Regions from separate parts of the Homo sapiens genome. Here region 2 is linked to region 1. A link means that fine-mapping ties the variant in region 1 to the plasma level of a protein whose gene starts in the linked region. Region 1 holds a variant in brackets. A gene starts in the other region. All regions are shown on their forward strands. Region 1 overlaps CASR (calcium sensing receptor). Region 2 holds the start of PCDH12 (protocadherin 12).

The links. A credible set is the group of variants that fine-mapping cannot tell apart. PIP is the posterior inclusion probability: the model's chance that the variant is causal. Protein levels are from antibody-based Olink assays in UK Biobank. Linkage for the fine-mapping came from a reference panel and not from the study's own genotypes, which makes the PIPs less certain.
Region 2: PCDH12 starts here. The variant in region 1 is the best candidate, but not a certain one, in a credible set for the plasma level of the PCDH12 protein (UK Biobank, PIP 0.82).

The regions. Positions count from the first base shown.
Region 1 is chr3:122,289,165-122,299,785 of GRCh38, forward strand. It overlaps CASR (calcium sensing receptor), which reads left to right. Exons shown (of 7, transcript NM_000388.4): 7 at 1-2,465. Among named protein-coding and RNA genes, the nearest start is that of CSTA, 31 kb to the right of the region's middle. The variant C/T (reference allele first, on the strand shown) is at 5,454.
Region 2 is chr5:141,952,766-141,963,386 of GRCh38, forward strand. PCDH12 (protocadherin 12) reads right to left here and starts at 5,437. Exons shown (of 4, transcript NM_016580.4): 1 at 2,207-5,437. The coding sequence starts at 5,086. It overlaps LOC124901095 (a long non-coding RNA gene), which reads right to left. Exons shown (of 3, transcript XR_007058977.1): 2 at 10,326-10,449; 3 at 9,782-9,860. It also overlaps a transcript of RNF14 not described here. RefSeq lists enhancers at 4,297-5,203, 5,204-6,109.

The DNA.
Region 1 (10,621 bases):
TAATTATTGCTACAAGAATAATGGAACATCAATAAGGGGTGCTAATCACCGGAGGAGGTGGCCCTCATTTGTCTGAGCCTGAGTGGTCATTTTAGGAGTCCACTGGAGACAAGAATACTCCCAAAGGTGGGTGGAATTAGGGTAGGTGGGAGGAAGTTGCCACAGTGAGATCACAGCCTCTGGGAGATGCTGGTTTTCCTGGCCCAGATCATGGAAAAAAAACATCAAGACTTGGATGACAACTTTGAGTGACTTTGCTATTATGCAAGGAGTGAGGCAGGGGTCAGGGAAACAACAAGCACAGGGTAGAACCTGTCACAGGAATAAAGGTGCATTCCAAGGATCCAAAGAAGAACCTTAGCCTTGAGAGGAAAAGCTCAGCAAGTGGTATGAGAAATGGAGAACTGCTAGGTGAAGGCCAACAGGGCAGGAAGCCGGGCAGAGCCAGCATGAAGGTGCCTCTGGGAACTGGAGGGACAACTGTGACTCTAGCACCGAGTGGGGCTAGGGGAACCTTCTCCTCTGTTGGGAATAACCACCACATTCATCCCCTCCCCTGACCCCTGGACAAGAGTGGAGGACACTTGGAGTGGAGACAAGCAGGGGTACCTGTTTAAATCAACAGCTGAGGCCAGATGCAGAGGCTCATGCCTGCAATCCCAGCACTTTGGGAGGCTGAGGTGGGAGGATCACTTGAGCCCTAAGAGTTGAAGACCAGCCTGGGCAACATGGCAAAACCCCATCTCTACAAACAATAAAAAAAAAAAACAGCTGGACATGGTGGCATGCGCCTGTAGTGGCAGATAACTCAGGAGGCTGAGGTGGGGGGATCTGCTTGAGCCCAGGAGGTGAAGGCTGCATTGAGCTGTGATTGCACCACTGCACTCCAGCCTGGGTGACAGAGCAAGACCCTGCCAAAAAAAAAAAAAAAGAAGAAGAAAAACAATTTTATTGGTAGAGGCGGGGGGAATAATAGAGATACAGCACCAGCTCCCTGCCTCTAAAATGTGGGCACCTGGGTAACTAGATAGCGCAGGAAGTTAGAACAAATAAAAGCAGCAAACTCTGTGACTGAAGTTTCAGCACATGGATGGCAAATATTTTCAAGTTTGGTGAAAATAGGTAAGAGATCAAAGCCCAAGAATAAACCCTGGGGTCATTACAGGATTTCCTGTAAAGGCATCAGGAAATGTTTTTGGAAGAATGTGATTGTCTTCGTTGATATCAACCCAAAGATGTGGTTATTGTTCAGAATGTCCTGATTTTCTTTAAATGTTTTGTTTCTATCTGACCTCTCATTATAAATGAGAAACTTATAAATTATAAATATACACTCATTATAAATGAAGATTGCTTGGTAATGGACTAATGGATAATTGTTTCTGCTTCTTTAGGATGTTCTAAATTTTTCCCAAGTTTTGTACATTAAGCACAAAATTATAACAGGAAAATAAAGAAAAGAATTTAAAATAAACATGCAACCAAATTTTAAACAGATAAGTATATCATATTAGATAGGAATCACCATACTGGGTCAGTCACCCCTCCTCCAAATTTTTCTTTATTCTTTTTTTTTTATTATACTTTAAGTTTTAGGGTACATGTGCACAACGTGCAGGTTTGTTACATATGTATACATGTGCCATGTTGGTGTGCTGTACCCATTAACTCGTCATTTACCATTAGGTATATCTCCTAATGCTATCCCTCCCCCCTCCCCCCACCCCACAATAGGCCCTGGTGTGTGATGTTCCCCTTCCTGTGTCCATGTGATCTCATTGTTCGATTCCCACCTATGAGTGAGAATACGTGGTGTTTGGTTTTTTGTCCTTGTATTAGTTTGCTGAGAATGATGGTTTCCAGCTTCATCCATGTCCCTACAAAGGACACGAACTCCTCATTTTTTATGGCTGCATAGTATTCCATGGTGTATATGTGCCACATTTTCTTAATCCAGTCTATCGTTGTTGGACATTTGGGTTGGTTCCAAGTCTTTGCTATTGTGAATAGTGCCACAATAAACATATGTGTGCATGTGTCTTTATAGCAGCATGATTTCTAATCCTTTGGGTATATACCCAGTAATGGGATGGCTGGGTCAAATGGTATTTCTAGTTCTAGATCCCTGAGGAATCGCCACACTGACTTCCACAATGGTTGAACTAGTTTACAGTCCCACCAACAGTGTAAAAGTGTTCCTATTTCTCCACATCCTCTCCAGCACCTGTTGTTTCCTGACTTTTTAATGATCGCCATTCTAACTGGTGTGAGATGGTATCTCATTGTGGTTTTGATTTGCATTTCTCTGATGGCCAGTGATGATGAGCATTATAAATGAAGATTGCTTGGTAGTGGACTAATGGATAATTGTTTCTGCTTCTTTAGGATTTTCTAAATTTTTCCCAAGTTTTGTATATTAAGCACAAAATTATAACAGGAAAATAAAGAAAAGAATTTAAAATAAACATGCAACCAAATTTTAAACAGATAAGCATATCATATTAGATAGGAATCACCATATTGGGTCAGTCACCCCTCCTACAAATTTTTCCAGAGCTCTAATTAGCTCCCAAGAGTTTCATGGGACTTTTAAATTTCTGAACGGGCCGAGGACATAGAATAGTGGAAAAGAGGGGGATTCTAGGCAGTATGACAGATAAGTTACACGTCTTTGGATGAGGCACTTAAGCTTTCTTTGTCTCACTTTCCACTATGAAAAGTACATAGGCCAGGCATGGTAGCTCATGCCTGTAATCCCAGCACTTTAGGAGGCCAAGGCAGGAGGATCATTTGAGGTCAGGAGTGTGAGACAAGCCTGGGCAACATGGTGAAACTTCATCTGTACAAAAAATACAAAAAATTAGCTGGGCATGATGGCATGCACCTGTAATCCCAGCTACTTGGGAGGCTGAGGTGGAAGGCTCCCTTGGGTCCAGGAGGCAGAGGTTGCAATGAAGCAAGATGTAGCCACTGCACTCCAGCCTGGGCAACAGAGCCAGACTTTGTCTCAAAAAAAGAAAAGTAGATAGACTATTACCTGCCATAATTACCAACTATGGTTGTTTGCCAAATAAAACAAGTGATTTGAAAGGAACTTCAGGAATATAGGCAAAATATAAATAATTATTAAAACCATGGGTGACTGAAGCTTAGAGAATTTGCTTTTGAAATCTCAGGAAGTACCATGGAATGCAATGATTTCTTCTGTCAGGTTTCTTAGTTGGAGGCAATAGAATTCACTCTAACTAGTTCAAGCAGAAAGGTACTTGTTATATGGTATTAGGAAGCTTATAACATTTTGGGAGGCTCAGTGATCCAAATTTAGTTGCTATACAATCAGGATCAATTCACCCAGGAGAAATACCTAATCCCCCTATGAGGGTGTTCTGGCAAAAGCTTCATAACCTCCCCTGCCTTCCACTTAGCACCAAGACACAGAGAACAGGACACTGGAACCTTCACTGAAGCTGGAGGAACCAAATCCCTCTGCCTGTGCTTGGCCCCACTCACACCAACTTTCCAAGTCTCATATCAGCCACATGCAGAGCCCTGGCTGTCAAGGAGTCTGGAAATGTAGCATTTGTTTCCCAGCCTCTATAGTGGAGGAAGACCTGCTAGAAGAGGGTCAGAGTGGCTACTGAACAAGCCCGTCCGCAGTGTCTACCACCCCAAAACAAAGATTTTTAAGATCAAACACAACATGAAAAACACACTCTCTTAAGAAAAATATAAGCAAAATATGATTTATTTTTATCTCCACAGCTGTGGTAGATCCACAAGATGCTGTGCTGGAGGCTGAACTACACCTGGCATTTTACTATGAGGGAGAACCTGCTGGCAGAGGAGATGGAAAGACAGCGGGAACTTGCACTGCAGGGGAGGGTGCTACAGGGGAGTGTGGCAACAAGTGTGTTTTATTATAAGCCAATTAGTACTATTTGTCTTTTTAAATAACACACATATGTTTGTATGTGTGTCTTTGTGTGTGTTGGTGTTGTATGGTAACCCGACCTGATAGTAATAAGTTAACAAGAAATGACGGTTTCCAGATGGAGGTTGCTGGGGGGAGAGTGCTAAGTGAACATGCTATGCGAACTGCATGCTTTTTACAAGAGGTTGAGGTTCTCCCATCCAGTCCACCACCACTGAACTGCCCTGTATTTAAGTCCCCTTCAGGAAACCCTGTGCCTGCTTTGCTGGCTCCAGGTCTCTTCTTCAGCCTCTTGAACCTGGTGCCATCCCTACTGCAGTTAATACGGGTCCAGTACAACAAGTGTCTATTTAGTAGCCTGGAGAAAATGCATAATGATTTAATAGTGATTATGTCTGGGTGTTAGAATTATTAGTGATTTGTATTTTCTTTGTAATATTTTTCTGAGCTTTTGTTCCTTAATTTCTTTCCATGAGCGTAATGTATCGTAAAACAAGAAAAATCTGTCACTTGAGTTCTCAGATAGGACAATATTATGGTCATGTTTTTGGTTTGTTCATTTGTTTAAGCTTTTATTTGGACATAATTTCAGACTTACAGAAAATTTGCCAAAGGAAAAGTAGTACAAAGAACACTTGAATCCCCACTGCCCAGATTCAGTTACTGTTTACATTTTAGCCCATTTGCTTTGTCCTTTGTGCCATGGTCATTTAAAAAAATGTGATGCGCATTAAGTACTTATGGATGAAATCATATGATGTCTGGGATTTGCCTTAAAATACTAGAATGGGGAGGAAAAAAGGAATAAGGGAGAGAAATAAAACAGGAAGAGCAGAAAATTATGGTCATTGAAGCTGGGTGACAGGTAAAGGAAGGTTCGTTTTTCTATTTCCCTTTCTTTTTTTTAGTTTTAAATTTTTTTCCATAATAAAAAATGTTAAAAAGCAGTGGAAGGATAAAAAATACTATTAGTCAAAAAAAAAAATCACACCAAAGAATTTCACTGATTTGACTGGTTCAATTAGCCACAAGAAAAGTTTGTCAAACACTCACAAAAAAGAGAACCTGAAAGTCTGCCAGGCAGCTAAAATTGTAGTTGGACAGCAAAAAATTTAAAATCAAATTAAGACTTTTACAACAAGGTTAAAAAGTAATTCTTTGGACTATATCAGAAAGGCCTTCCTGGAGCTTAATGAAAAACAAGTCCCCTGGATCTTCTAACATTTCATCCATTTATGATCTTATCCTTAGGTGAACCAACTCTTGGCTGGTTCACATTTTTTATCGTCTTCTGGCAAAATGTTAAAAATTTCTTAACAGATCCTTCTTAGCCTTTGTGCCAGAAATTTCTCTTTTATGCACAGTCCCAAGTAAATAATCCAACAGGCAGCAAAATTAATTAGTTACCAACGTGTTCAGGCTAAAAGAGAACCTGTCTGGGCCGTATTGAGGGTAGGCCTGCACCCGGGGAGCACTGGCAACTGCTGACGTCCTGTGAGAAAAACAGGAGAGGATCCAGCGC[C/T]CAACACCCAGGCTAAGGAAATTATGCTATAATTCCATGTCAGGGAGCCCACAGACATTAGCTGTGCAAACATGTGGACTATGTCAAAACACAATCAAGTTCAAGAAATAATGTTTAGGGAAGAACAGGACACAGAATAGGATATCCACACAGGATAACATGAATACAATTTCACTGAAAAGCAAAACGAGGGAATAGGATGGAGGAAACTGAGTTTATTGTTCATTTGCTTTTCTTTTGTAAAGTTACATAACTTTGCTGTAAAAAGGAAGGAGAGAGGGGAGGAAGGAAGAAAAGAAGGGAGGACAGAAGAAAGCCTTATCTGAGATCTGAGATATATATTTTAACTGTGATTTAAGGGCTAAGAAAGCCAAGATTCTAGGAGACAGGAGATTAGAGGAAGTCACTTTTGGGCTCTTGAGGTAAATCCAGCAGAATTATTGACTGGATAGGCTATGGAGAGTGCTAATTCATTTCCCACACTCTGGTCAATATTAGGTGACCTGTGATAAGGTGGAAGACAAAACATTCAAAGAACAATTTTTTAACATCACTTTGTTATGCAACCAAACACAAAACAGACCAAATGTTATTAGCATTGCTCAATGTCTCCTCTTTCTGTGCCTCATCATCCTCCTCCACCTCCCACCATGCTAATGAAGGCCCCAGACATCTCCAGCCTGGACCATCACAACTGTAACAATCTTACTGAGCAAGCAAAGCTCTTGGGATAGAATCCTAAAGTAACTTCACTTTTGTACACTTTCATGTGATAGTCAAAACTCTGAACACAGTTTCATTTGGGCCTCTTCCCCTTCCTCAGCTCAGGCCTCCTGCAGATGAACAAGCCTATAGTCAGAGAAGAGGGTGTGGTTAGCCATTTCCCCCTTCACCCCATTTGTGCCGTGCCCTTTCCTCTGTGCACACGTGGTTAATCCCTCCGAAACTGGGACACAGGGAGGAAGGAAAGTAAGTTACAGCTGACTCTTTTGCTTGTGGGTACTTTCATGTGTTCTTTGGAGCCTTCTTCCATTGCTGGAGACCTGTCTCCTCCAGGTTCCTTAATGGGGGTGATATACTCTCCTCACCTGGAAGCATCTTTTGATATACCTAGTTTCTGTTTGCCCCTCCAGGCAACCCTCTTGACCAGGACCTAAGAACATGCAAAAGAATAAACTCTAAATTCCTATTGCCCTGGGGTTCTTTTCCAGGCAGCAAGGGCCACCGGATAAAATAAATGACGCAATGCAGATACACAGAAACACTCCACTTACTTCCCCTGACAGCCACTTCCATGGAAGATTCAACACAGCTGAAAGGCCCAAAAAAAGTTCTTGAGTTCCCAGGTGTGAATAATAACAGGGACAAAGACTCTTTCCTTTGACCAAAACTTTAGTCAAGCTCCTCTGAGTGCTCCTCATAACTAGGCCCAACCTTGGGCTTCCCTCCCTGTCCTTGCTGAATCAAATGTGAGCAAGAATCCTGTTAAGTCAGGTTAGGGAAAATCCCCCACTCTAGGTATCTGACCACCCTCAATATCTTATCACCCTGGCCTGCCTGCAGCAAGAATCCTATCAAGTTAGTTTAGCCAGACACCCCTTATCCCTGATGTTTCCTCTTAGTCATTTTCCACCCACAGTCACCACCCTGCTCCTTCGCTACGAATCCCCACTTGTACTGGTTGGGGTCAGAGTTAAGTCTGATTGGCAAGACCCTGTTGCAGTGGTCCCTACACCTATTGCCATGGCCCCCTCCAGTAAAATCTGCCTGACCATCTTGCCTAGTGCTTGGGTAATCTTTTTTTTAACAACCATTATTTCAAATTCAAAATCATGCCCTCAACATCACTTCCTTGGTCCCAAGCCCCCTCCCAGACTCCTTCCAGACATTCCCCTAAGGTGGGAGCTGTGGCTTTTTTCATTATAATACCCTTAAGGAGTCAGCCACATAATCAGGACACCCAAGAGTAGAGATTTCAAAGTTCAACTGAATCCCTCGACACATTTGGTTTTGACTCTAGCTATTTTCTTGGCTCAACTCCCTGTTCTGTTATATAGGCAAGATTCTGTAGTTTCTTCCTTCCTATCTTGTCTGACTCCCCCCAATATGTGATCTAAAACCACTAACTTAAAACATTTCACTTCTGTTAACTATAACCTCATAATTCACCCTTCCCAATAAACTGGATTTTCCTACTTGATCAACAATATTCAATGATTTTCATTTGCCACTTCAGAAAAACCCCACCAACATCAATGAGACATATTCTATTGCATTTCATGAGACATCAATGAGTGTGATCTGGAGAAAATATTTATTTAAGCCAGAAACAAAAATTTTGATCTGGAGAAAATATTTATTCGAGCCAGAAACAAAAATTTCTTTGCAACATTGGCAGTTATAGAAATTATCCTAACAAGAGTCAACCCCACAGAGCCTTGTGGACTTTGAAAGGATCTAAGACCACGGCAGAGACTCACCTTTTAGTAAAGCAGTAAGTCTTGACATCGTGTGAGTTTGGACATTGATGGATGATCCTCTTGGATTTGATTTGAGCAGATAACCCACAAAAGGTGTGTATGCCTCTCCTACATTTTTGGATTCTTTCACTGTGCTTGATAAAAGAAGGCAAATAGAATTTAGGATGTCAAGTTGAAGTTAATAGTAAGATTCAAGTGATTTGGATTCTCTAATTATAGTCAAAGAAAACACTCAGCTTCCTTAACAAAACTAGCGGGTAAAACGATCTGACTTCAGATGTATCAGATACACAAATTAGCACTATCCTCCAGAACCAAACTGCATCCACCTGGTTATAACAATCTCATTCTAAATCCCAGCAGTTTGGGAGGCCGACGTGGGGGGATCACGAGGTTAGGAGATCGAGACCATCCTGGCTAACACAGTGAAACCCCGTCTCTACTTTAAAAAAATACAAAAAAGTAGCCGGGCGTGGTGGCGGGCGCCTGCAGTCCCAGCTACTCCGGAGGCTGAGGCAGGAGAATGGCGTGAACTCGGGAGGCGGAGCTTGCAGTGAGCGGAGATAGCACCACTGCACTCCAGCCTGGGCGACAGAGCAAGACTCCGTCCAGAGCAAGGCTCCGTCTCAAAAAAAAATGCCATTCTATAATAAAAAAAAAATCCCTTTAATGCCTCTTTTATTAAACTCTCTTGAACAGGGTTCAATATAGTATCACCTTTTACCAAATTCCAGTGCAAAACAAACAAACATTTCAGATGGCAGTGTACTAAAGGATTCTTGCGAGTAACTCGCAGTATAATTTTTGTCAGGTCACTTACTGTGGTAGGCAGAATAATGGCCTCCAAATATGTCTATGTCCTAATCCCTGGAACCTGTAACTATGTTCTGTGGCAAAGGGGAATTAGGTTGCATATGGAATTATGATCACTAATCAGATGACCTTGAGATAGGAAAAGTATCCAGGTGGGCTGGATCACAAGGGTCCTTATAAGTGGAAGAGGGAGGCAGGAGAGTCAGGGTCAGAGTCAGAGAGAGATTTTAAGATGGTAGAAGTGACGAGAAGCCAAGGAACACAGGTGGCCTCTGAAAGCTAGAAACAGCAAGGAGCAGATTTTCCCTTAAACTTTCCAGAAAGAAATGCCAGTACCTTTAACTCAGTGAGATCCATTTTGGACTTCCAACCTCCAGAACTATAAGGTAACAAATTTGTGTTGTTTTAAGCCACTAATTTGCAGTCATCTGTTACAACAGCAATAGAACAGACACCTTCACACTTGCCCTTTCTAGGCCTCAGTTTTCTAATGTGTCCACTGGGGGAGGCAGGGGTGGTTCTGCTCTGACATTCTATGGTTGCGAGTCTTCCTGAACCGTGAAAGAATCAGGTCTTTCTCAGACCACAAAGATTTTGTGTGTTCAAACCACTGCAACTTCTGAAAACTTTCACATGGTAATAGGAATTGGTTGTCATAAAATTCATTTGACAATATGATGTTAGGATTAAATGACACTACAGAGAAAAATCAGACAAATCCAACATACTGAAATTCTTTCTATAGGACAACTGTTCTGGTCTCATCAAAAGGTCAGTATCTAGGTAGGTAGGTAGATAGATAGATAGATAGATAGATAGATAGATAGATAGATAGATAGATACACACACACATACATGGCACACATATATGGCATTTCTAATACACAAGTCTAAAGAGATATAGCAACCAAATATAATTATAACATTTGAATTAAAGAAAAATTTGGGAAATGTGAATTTGAACTGATTTTTAGATAAAATTGAGGAAGTATTGTTAGTTTTCCTAGGGGTGATAATGTGGTTATGTAACAAAATGTCGTTATATTTAGGGGATGAATGCCAAACAGTTTTGAGGTAACTGGTCACAATATCTGCAACTCAATTTTAAATGTTTTATACAAAAAAATAGACACAGATATATGTTAAAATATATGGCAAGATGCTCATAATTATGTAATCTGAGTGGTGATATAGAGGTGTTTGCTACACTGTTTCTGAATGTTTAGAAATTTGGTAACAAAAAGTTGGGGGATTTGTTTTTAAAAACTCTTTACAAATGTTTGTTAAACTTTTGCTCAGAAACTTTACATTTTGGATTCAAGATGCTCCCTTTGTATAGAACTGTTTAAAGCTATTTTGTAGCAACTCAGATTTGTGGCAAGATAACTACCACCTTATGTAAAATAGTTTAGATAAGTTTCCAGTCAAAAAGCTCATGGGAAAAAAAGTGATGTTCTTCTATGAATCAGTGGGAAATTACTGCCCTCTCATTGAAGAAAGCCTCACTTGGTGGAATGGGGATTTTTAGTCTGAGCAGGTCAGAGATTTTCATTTCTTGATTTTGCCAACAGAAGGGATAAAAGTGAAACTCTGAATATGATAAATAGAAAATTATTGCCAAGTAAAAGAAGGCAGGCACAAAAATTATTCCCTAAACACCAACATCCTACAACCAGTAGCAGAAGGAGGCTGCAAGAAATTTGTGTTTCTAAGTCTGACTAAAGTCCCAGAGCTGCGCCAGTCATTTTCTACGGACATACAAGAGAACACCAGAGAAAAAAATTAAACAGTATCATTCTAGTAAGCCCAGAGACAAGAACAGGATTAGCTAGAGATAGAATGAAAAATACTTTTATATAGTTTGCCTTTTTGACT
Region 2 (10,621 bases), not on the chromosome of region 1:
CACGATTAAATGGTTTGAAAAAGTTAAAAATCCTCTGCAAAAGCAAGGAGTTTGCACTGTTATTCCTAGAAACACTGCTTCCTCCTCCTGGGTCCATCCCCATTCCTCCCTTAGGAGGTCCACCATGCCCCTCTGTGCAGCTTGAGGTAGGAAGTGTCAACCTCAGAGGAGAGTTGGAAGAGGAGATGGCCAGGACTGGGGTTTCACTGTGACTTGGGAGACTCGGGGTCTTATTGCCTGCCTCAGGGAAGATCCCACCTCCCAGCCCAGGCCCAGAAGCCCTCCTAAGATACCTGCCACCCTTTGCTCAAGTGACAGCTGCCTTTTCATGACATGACTCCCTACATGCCAAGCCCTATGCTGAGCACTGTCATTCAGGGTCACTTCACAGTTACAGCCCAGACTCGAATCAGTCAGACTCAGGTTCAAATCCTAAATATGTCCCTGCCCCAGTTCCCATCAGTGTGGCCTTGAGGAATTACTTAAGCATTCTGAGAAAATTACTCAGTTTCCTCAACAGTAAAAAAAGTGCATATTAATGAGACCCAGGTCATATGGTGGGTTACGAGGTTTAAATGAGCTTATTAATAAATCCCATGATAAACAGTGATTGTCCAGTGGTGTATAATCTCATTTAATTCTTACAACAGCCTAAGGGAAGAGATACCATTATGGCCATTTTGCAGAGGTGGAATTGGAGGCTCACAGGGGCTACACAGAAATTAGTGGGAGGGCTGGAATTTACACTCAGATCTGACTCTATGTGCTGCTGGAAAGATATGAGCATTGGGCAAGTTGCCTGTTACCCTCAAGTTGATCCCAAATGGGCACCTTTCTTTCTGTCACCTCAGCGGGGTCACCCACAGGGCCTATTCTCTGTTGTCCTGTCTACCAGCAGCCAGCACAGTGTTCAGCACAGAGTTTATCCAAAAAGCACCTGATAAATGGATGGATGAATGGAAGGATAAATGAATGGTTGGCTCTGGCAGCCTCTGGGTCTGCACCGATCCCAGGGCAAGATTCCTAAGAGAACAGCTGGGCCATCTCCAGGTGGCTTCCTGAGGAGGGAATAGGGAAGGAAACTGTGTTTTGCTTCACAGGAAACCTGAGCTGATAGCCTGGCCAAACAGAAGTGTGCCTTGGGCGGGCAGCCTGGCACAGTGAAAATATCTGAGGTTCACAGAAGCAGATATGGGTGTGAGATCAGGCATCATCCCTGGAAAGGTTTCCCCACTTGTGTCTAGAAAATCCCAGGTCCTTAGACATTTTGACACTCATCATCCCATTTAGCCCTCACACTCTAAGGAGGCAGACACAGGGTAAGTTTGGTCTCATAATCCCCATTTTATAGATGAGGAAAATGAGGCTCAGATGTTGAAGGACGTGTACAAGGTTGCCCAGCTCCTAAGTGGCTGTGTTGAAATCTGAACTCCAATCTGCCTAACTGCTAAGTTCTAAGGTAATTTCCACTGCCCCATCCGCAGGCCCAGCCGGAAAGCTCTGGGGTCTCAGACAAATTATTTGCAACACCTGGGTTTGGGTGCAATGATGCCTATGCTGGCCTTCTTCATAGGGAAGTTGCCCAGATGAGATGAAGGCAGGCAAATAGTGGAGATGGAGAAGTGCTTTGAGGAAGTAATAGTAATAATTTGCTGAGTACTGACTACATGTCAGATGGACACTGTTCTACAGGCATTAAGAGCATTCACTCATTTTATTTTCAAGCAAACTTAGAAGATGGGTGGTGTTAACATAGACATCTTCAACAGAGATGTTAACTTCCTCTGTGGTTCAGAGCTAGGAAGAAGTGGAGCCAGGATTTGAACCCAGGTAACCTTGCCCAAAGCTTATACTCTTAATCACTACCTTTGCTGTGTGTCTACTTGTGAGGCACCATAAATGCCTTATAGGAATTAATTGATCAAATCCTCTGGACAACTCTACAAGGTAGATACTCTTACTATCATCTCTAATTTACAGATAAGACAACTAAGGCCCAGAGACAGTAAGGAATTTGCCTAGGATCACACAGCTAAGTTCAGCCGATCACAAAGCTGTGCCCTGAACCATTGCTACCCAAAGCATCAGAAAGTGCCAGGTGAGCCTAAGGAAGAAACATGAGGACTGTGCAGGTTATGGGGGTGTCTGATTCTGTTTCTGGTGGTCCAGGAGTGACCAGAGAAAGAGCTGCCCATGCCCCAGGTACCTGAACAGGAGGAGAATCCACAGTGAGCTCCTCCACGGGGTTCCGCTCGGCGAAGGCAGCCACAGACAGCCGGACCAGGCTCCGCAGGATCTGACGGGGCCCTGATTCTTTCTCAGGGGACACTTTGCCATTGAGATGTCGCTGCCGTCTCAGGGTTGCAGAGGAGGCTGGTGGCCTCTGTGGGGCTTCCTCACTGCCCTGGTCTCCAGCCAGCCTCCCTGTGGGGCTGCCTGCAACCTTCAGAGGCCTGGAACGTGGCTGGCCTGTGGCAGGCTGGGGCTCGGGAAGGTTCAGGTTCTCCCGGGAGGCATTCCTCTGCCTGGGATGGTTGAAAAGGAGGTTGACCGTGTCTTGCAGCACCTCTCGGCTCTCCGCCGGTGCTCCCTGGTTGCCTTGATTACGCAGCGTCCTGTACAGGGTCGGGGTGAGGTGGAAGGGGGCCTGCAGGCAGGGGTCCCAGCCTGCTTCCATCATCGCCTCCTTGTCCACATCTTTGTGGGACTGCCCGACTTCACAAGGCTCACCTGCCTGACCCCTGAGCACAGGCACGAGGTGGATGTCTGCCTTCTGAATGTGTTTCTGGGGCCTCTTGGGCTGCTGGCGGTAGGTGGACTCGGCCTCCCGACAGTTGTAGGCCCTGTTGTCCTTCTTTTCTGTCCGGCAGATGGACATGAACAAAGCCAGGATCAACCCGAAGATGCCCAACAGTACAGCCAGGCAGATCACCGTCAGCATCGACATGCTCAAGGCCCCAGGCTTGCGGGCTGAGTCCCTCAGGTGGTCCACACTGGTGACAAACATGACCCTCAACAGGGCTCGGGTCTGTAAGGGGGGGCTTCCCTGGTCCTCTACTACTATCTCCAGCTCCCACTCACTCCCAATGAGGCTGCTGGCATTGGTGACATTGACGAACAGCTGCCCCGTATGAGGGTTGAGGATGAAGAGGTGGGCTTCATTTCCACTGCGGATGCTGTAGAGGGGCTCTCCATTTGCCCCCGAGTCTGCATCTCTTGCCACAATGGTTGTCAAAAGGAATGGCCGGGAGCTGTGAGTGGCCAGTGGAGGTGTGTCAGTGCCCGCTGGGCCCAAGCCATTGGGAGTCTCGATGGGCACCAGCAGGTGGCCTGTGGAGGCATTCACAAGCACGGAGAGGCTGGCTTTTCCATCGCTGAGCACAGGCTGGACCACCTCTGGGGCATTATCATTGGCATCCAAGAGGCTGACCCACACAGAGACACTGGATGCAAGCATGGGTTGCCCGCTGTCCTCTGCGATCACCTGGAACTCAAAGCCGGCCATCTCTTCATAGTTCAGTGACCTCTGAGCAGTGACCTCTCCTGTGTTGGAGTCAATAGCTACTAAGTGAGCAACTGGGGAGTCCTGGATGCGGTATGAGACTTTTCCATTAATGCCCAAGTCTGCATCATGAGCCTTGATGGTAATGAGGTGAAGAGAGGGTAAGTTGTTTTCCCGCGTGGAGACTTCATACCTGCTTTTCTCAAACACAGGTGCATTGTCGTTGATGTCACTGATCTGAATGCTGAGCTGTTTCTTGGCTGATAAGGGCTGGAGTCCTTGGTCTTGGGCTAACAGAGTGAGGGTATATTTGGGCCACTGCTCTCTGTCCAGTGTGGCATTGGTTAGCAACATGTATGTGTTGCCATTAGTTCTTTTCAGCCTGAAGTGGCCCAGCTCTTGGCTCAGCCAGCAGTGGACCAAACCATTGTGTCCTGAATCCAAGTCATCTGCCATGACAAGAGCAATAAAACTGTCCTTGGGAAGAGCTTCTGACACCAGTGATGGCTGGGAGGCCCATGTGACGTGGATGCTTGGGATGTTGTCATTGACATCCAGAACCTTGATGAGAACTTTGCAATGGGCTGGGATAGGATTGGGACCCAGGTCCCTTGCCTGAACATCCACCTCGTAGGCAGGGTTCTTTTCATAGTCTAGAGGTCGACGCAGAATGACCTGGCCTGTCTTGGCATCAATACTGAAGGTGTCCAGCACCTCTGGAGGCATGTGCTTACTGAGGAAGAACTCCACCTCCCCATTGGGGCCTTGGTCAGGGTCTGTGGCGGTCAGTTTTATGAGAAGCGTACCAGGTGCAGCATCTTCTTGGATTTCCAGTGCCAGTGAACTCTCAGCAAACGCAGGGCTATTGTCATTGGAGTCCAAGACGTTGACCTTGACCAAGCTGGTACCTGACTTGGGGGGGTTCCCATTGTCATAGGCAGTTAACACCAGATCAAAAAATGAATGGATTTCCCTGTCCAGCTCCTTCACCACTATGAGTTCTGCATGTTTGGTCTCATCAGGGCCCACAATGACATCCAAGGCAAAGTGCTCACTGGGAGACAGAGTGTAGGTGTGCAGGGTGTTAGGGCCTGTGTCTGGGTCAAGAGCTCTGTCCAGGGGGATCCGGGTTCGCAGAGAGGCGCTCTCAGAGATTTCCAGCTCCTGCTCGCCTTTGGGAAACCGTGGCTGGTGGTCATTGATGTCCAGCACTTGGATCTCCACATGGATCAGAGCCAAATCCCCTGTGGCAAGCACATCAAAGGAAACCAGGCAGGGATCCCACTGTCGGCACAGCTGCTCTCGATCCAGCCGCCTGCCTGTGCTGAGCAAGCCTTCCTCAGAGTCCACCTGAATGGGGAGCGCCTGAGGCAGCTGCAACACCTGGAAGGCAGCCCCAGCTTGCCTCCGCCTCTCCTCCCGGCCCAGTTCCTGGGACAGCTTCCCGATCACTGTACCAGATGGCACTTCCTCTGACACTTGGTATTTCACCGTGAGAGTGGTCACCTCCTGACAATCCCCTAAAAGAAATAAGTAGCCACCTGGCCCCAAAAGCCCCAGCAGAAGTTGCAGAAGTTGCATCATGCTTACCGCCAAGTGGGCTAGATTCAGAAACCACTAGAGTTCTTTCAAGGCTGGACAAGTCCTCCAGTGTTTCCTGGATGGCTTGATCAGCCCCGTGCTCCTTCCCCCAGAGCTGCCGGCACAACCTTGTCCCATAGTTAGATGATTATGAAACAAGCAGGACCCCAAGGCAAGGCCATCTTCATTGGAAGCGATCTGAGATGTCCAAACGCCGATCAAGAATTGCCAGGGGAGACCCCCTACTGGGGAACTAGTTGGTCCACTTCAGCAAATGATGGACAAGAGCTGGTCTAAGAGGGACCTGACCCAGTTGAGCAGGATGTGGGACTCTGACTGCCAAACAGTTGCTAGGCTGGGGAAACAGAGAAGCAGCTTTTTCCTATGGAAACCCCACCTACAGGAAAAGGGAGGGCTGTGAGTTTCAATGCCAATTAGAGAAAGAGCATTTCCTGTGAAGCTAAGTGGCCTGCCGCTGAGGAGGATGAGGCCGGGGCTCCGGGGACAGGCCAGATGGGAAGCTGCTGTCCACGCAGCAAGGCGGCTGCTGAGGGAAAGGGAGCCTCTGCATCACCAAGTGAGCAGAAAACTTGAGCCTCCACCTGCTTGCACGTGGACTGATGCCCCTCCCGGGCAAGTCATGTTTCCTGTTTCTCTCCCCTTCCCCAACTCTCTTTGTTCCTATCTTTTCCCCCATTGTTCCCCTCTCATTCCTGTCTTTTTCCCAATCTTGTTTACCTCTCTGTCTTGACTCTGCCCTGATCACCCGTTTTTGTCTCACTGGAAAGCAGCTGTGATTAACAGAGCAGCCATCAGAGGTAAACTGCCTGAGTTCAAATTCTGACTTTGCAACTTACCAGCGGTGTCATCTGGGACAAGTCACTTAACTTTCCTGGGCCTCCATTACCTCATCTGTAGAGTGGGGATGGGAGTAAGAATAGTAGCCCTTTCAGCAGGAAACTGTGAGGATTAAACGAAATGATGTAGGAAGGGCTTTGGCCTGGGCCTGGCCCCGAGTCACAGGCAGTGACGTTATTGCAAGGGGTGAGTGTTGTAATCTGCACAACTTGTCACACCCTATGGCTACCTCTGGATCTTGGATTGGCCCTGGGGCAGTCCCTGCCCACACTGACTTATGAGGGTGCCCATGGTCTTGATTCCAGAAGCTGCAAGAACCTGTGCAACTTGACCGTGTGGCTCTCCTCCCGCTTCCCTTCTGCCCCCCTCCAGCCTTGAAGTCCATTGTTCTCTGCATCTGGTCCAGACTGAGTCTCTGTCTGGGGAACCCCCAGCCTCCCACTCCTCTTGGAAGCTTTTATACGTTTCCCTCTCCCACACCTTCCCCTCCCTTTCATCTATGTCTTTCCCCCTTCCTCCAATTCTTCTCTCCCCAGTTTTGTTTATAAGAGTCCCGTGAAGCACATCTCCTTTGCTGCCCCCAACTCTCCTTTTAGATGTTTTAAGGGATACCCTATCTTCCACTCACCTCCTCATAAGGTGAAATTCAGGAAGGAAGGAGGTGAATGAGCAGTTTGCTTGGGTGGGCTTTGAGGTGGCCTTATTGCTTCTTATTGTGCCCTTCAGTTTGCTGCCCCCAACATTCTCCCAGCCTTATACCCACTTCAAGGTTGATCCCTGAGGCTCATGAAGCATTTGAGGTGATGAGAATGAACGCCAGCTTCCCTAGATGGGTGTTTGCTACTAAGCCCTTGGGGCCAGAGATGCCATGTTTGGACCCAAGTGGCACTAGTCAGGGCTTATTGGCATGGAGGCCTGTGGTCATCAGGACTGGGGTGGCTAAGGGACAGTCACCTGCACTCCTTCCCTTTCTCTCTGGCTTTTCTTTCCCTTAACTCCATATCCCACTCCTGAGGTTTCCCAACTATTTCACTGAAACCCATTAAACCATAGCAAGGGGCCTGAATCCAGGGCCACCTCCTACAGCATGGCCCTGGAGACAGACAGGCCACTCACAAGCTCTGAGACACTGCACAAGGGACTTAACCTCTCCTAGCCTCTGTTTCCTTCTCTGAGGGCTGTCATCGATCTCACAAGGTGGGGTAAGGACTCAGCACAGGGCCTGGCTCAGAGAAAGCACTCAGCACATAAGGACTATGATTTTGCTGTTTATTATCTTCCAAGTTTTATGCCTCATACGCAAATGGCAAAGATGGCCTTGCATTTGTCCCTTCACTTTTTTCTTTGCCTCTTTGGCAGGAATCCCATTTCTCAGGTCTCCCTCAGCTTGGTGTGGGCAAGGTGCTGCCTAAGCTACTAGGAGCCCCTGGGAGCTCAGGGACACAAGGGTGCCCATTGCCCCCTGCTGGCAGCCCACGTGACAGTCTCACTATCCGCCCCGCAATCGTCCCCCTGTGTGCCTGACAGTGAACAAGGCAAGGGGCTGACAGTCGCAGGTGGGGGCAGGGAAAATGAAAGGCGAGAGGCCAGTAGAATGGCTCTGGAATCAGGCCTGGGGGTCCGGGAGGCTCCTCATGGAGGGCACACGCTGAATCCTGACGGACCTGGAGGAGTGAGCCCGAGGAAGTTGAATAGGCAGGAGACAGGCAAAGCTGGTGGCAGGGGCAAAATGGGCAAAGGCCCCGAAGTGGGCAGGCTGGCTCCTGGCTGTGCTGCAAGAGGGTCAGTGCAGTAGTGTAGGGAGGAAGGTTGGGCAGGGGACATAAGCAGGGGTCCTCAGATGATGCAGTGGCCTGGGTTCCCATGGCTAAGAATTTAGACCTTGTCCTGAAGGTCGTGGAGTGCTTTTGAAAAGCTCTACGCAGGATAATGAGAACAGCGACCACATGCCAGGCCTTGTCCTAAGTGCTTTACCTACATCCTCTCATGACGCACTCACAGCCATACCATCACATTGAAGATGCTGAGCACACAGCGTTAGGTAACTTGCCCAAGATCACACAGATGTGCCCTCCAGAAAGGCCTTTTGGCTGCACCCTGGAAAATGGCTTGGAAGGGAACAGAGAAGAGGGAGGGAGCCTAGTTGAGAGTAATGCAGGGGAGCTTTGATGCAGAAAACTCGTTTCCAGAGCGCCATCTGGTGGCCAAAGGCAGAGAAAACGGCACAGAGGCAGGGACCGGGGACAGCCACGAAAACAGGAAGTGGGTGCCTGGGGTTCATAAATATCCACAGCTCCAGCCCCGTGCTACACAGAAGAATACAACAGGAGAAGCTACTCACTGATGACAATAGTATCTCTTAATGGAAAACCTAACGTGGACCAAGGCCACAGAAGGAGTTATGGAATTCATGATAATTTTACTTGTGTTAACATTTATATTCTTCAGAGGACATTGTTTTATCTATATATATTTTACATGCAGTTATATATCTGTTGGGTGTGTGTGTGTGTGTGTCTGTGTTTTGACTGGGAATGTGAATGCAAAAAAATGATGCATAGGTCGCAAGAAAGTTTGAATTTAGATTTCATAGGTGGTTTTTATTGTTTGTTTTATTCACACTGGGGACATGAAGCTAAGATTACCCTTTGAGATTTCAAAGCTGGCAAACAAGGCCCCAGACTTTTTTAAGGTGATCACCTCTGGAAATGAGGTCCCCATTTAGCAATTTTCTCTCCTCCTTCTGGCTGCAGGGGTCAGCTGATCTTTAGCAGTCAAATGCCAAGGGGTGAATGGAGCTGTCACTAGAGTTCGTCTGGAAAGGCGACGTTTTCCTGAGTTTTGAAAATAGGTTTGAAGGAGTGGAGGTACTCTGAAATAGGTTTGAAACAATTGAGGACAGCCTCCCTTAAGTCCAAAATATTTTTTTTAAAAGGGCAGGATTAGGGTTTGTGCTTGAAGGCCTCACTAACCACCAAACTTGGGGTTGTTCACACTTGGGTTCTTAACCACAGGGAGGGCTGAGGGGTGAAGTGGGAAGGGTGGGGGTTCAGAGAATCTTCTTAAAACACCTGGAGTCCTAAGGAACCTTGAGGGGTCAGACTAGTAAGGTGTGACTCTGACCCTTGGAGGACTCCCAGGCCAGCTGAATGAAGGCTGAGATCACACCTCGCCCCTACGAATGTCCCGCTGGGCTGGCTGCCCCACTTCCAGGGCTCTGGTCTTCCAGGCTTTCTCCTCGTGAATCTCCCCTGTGGTTGCCACAGCATCACCACCAAGACAGCTTTGGGGAAGCCAAGAAGCATCCTCCGGCTTATCCCAGGTAGGGAGGTGGTTGGACCGTCCAAGCTCAGCGTCTTTTTTCAGGAAGATCTTGTTGAAGTTAGATTCCTAGTCAGACCAGGAATCTTGACTGGGAGACTCAGGTAGATGTTCTGGGTTATCTGCTCCTAGCAGGGCACTTTGTGGACTTTGTTGAGACAGATGACAGGTGCTGTCTCCCACACAATGGCACCTGTTTCTGGGGTCAGTGCAGAAAAAAGAATGCACTTTGCAGGGAGAAATTTGCCAAGAAATAGGACCTTTCAAGAAATGAAAAAGCTTTATGTCTTGGTTAACAGCGGCAGTTCTCAAAAGGGTCCAGATATCGAAGTCACTTGGAAAGCTTTACAAAATACCAGGGACAGGGCAAGAAAATTCATACTTTTCCCTTTCCCAGAATACTGCCAAAGAATAGTCTGTAATTGCCAGCTCAGTTCCGCACCCTTCATTTGGGACAGGGTTGGGGAATTTGATTGGACCTTTTTGCTGGAAAGAGAGGCTAAGTTGATTTACGTGATAAAAATAAATAGACGGGAGGAGGGAGATTTCTGCAATCTGAGAAAATTCTGGAGAGCAATACAGCAGACAACAGCAGAGGCTGTGAAGGAGGTAGAATGAAGATGAAAAGGACTTTTGAATTCGTTATTGCAAATTATAGACCTCCTTCATGATTTTCAAGAAAAATACAAGAAAAGATTTGTATGTTCTTTTCCAAATTTATTTTGTGCGTTAGTAACCATAACATGGACCCAAAACTGGACCACTTGAGTTCTGGGTTGATAAGAGTTACACACACATGTCTTTCTCCCCAACCTTCGAGAGGAAGGGCACTACTTCTGGTGTACAGATTTCAATTTTGATATATTCTGGGTGATTCCGACATGCATCCTTATCTCCACCCCAACTTCATCGAGAACCACCTATTAGAAATTCTCAGAATCACCATCCCCCATTGCAAAGGCCAAACTCTATAGCGATCAGGCCTTTCTTAACCCAGCATCCTCATGGTCCCCACCTCTCCCTGACATGTGTGTCACTATTCATTATAGAGTTCCATACTCACCTGGTTCTCTCTCCATATTTCTGCAGACTCCTCTATCTGCCTCTCTGGCTCCTTCTTTGGTTTTCCTTCCTTCTAACTCCCAGGTGCAGGCATGTCCCCTAGAAGCTATCTTCTGTCCTTTCCTCTACGTAGGGTTATTGGTCCAGAAAGGGGTTGCCAGATTTAGTAAATAAAAATACAGAGTGCCCAGTTAAATTAGAATTTCAGATAAACAATGAATAATTTTAGTATAAATATTTTAATCTGACAACTCTGCCCAGAAATAATGTATGCTTTCAACACAAGTTCCTTTTTTT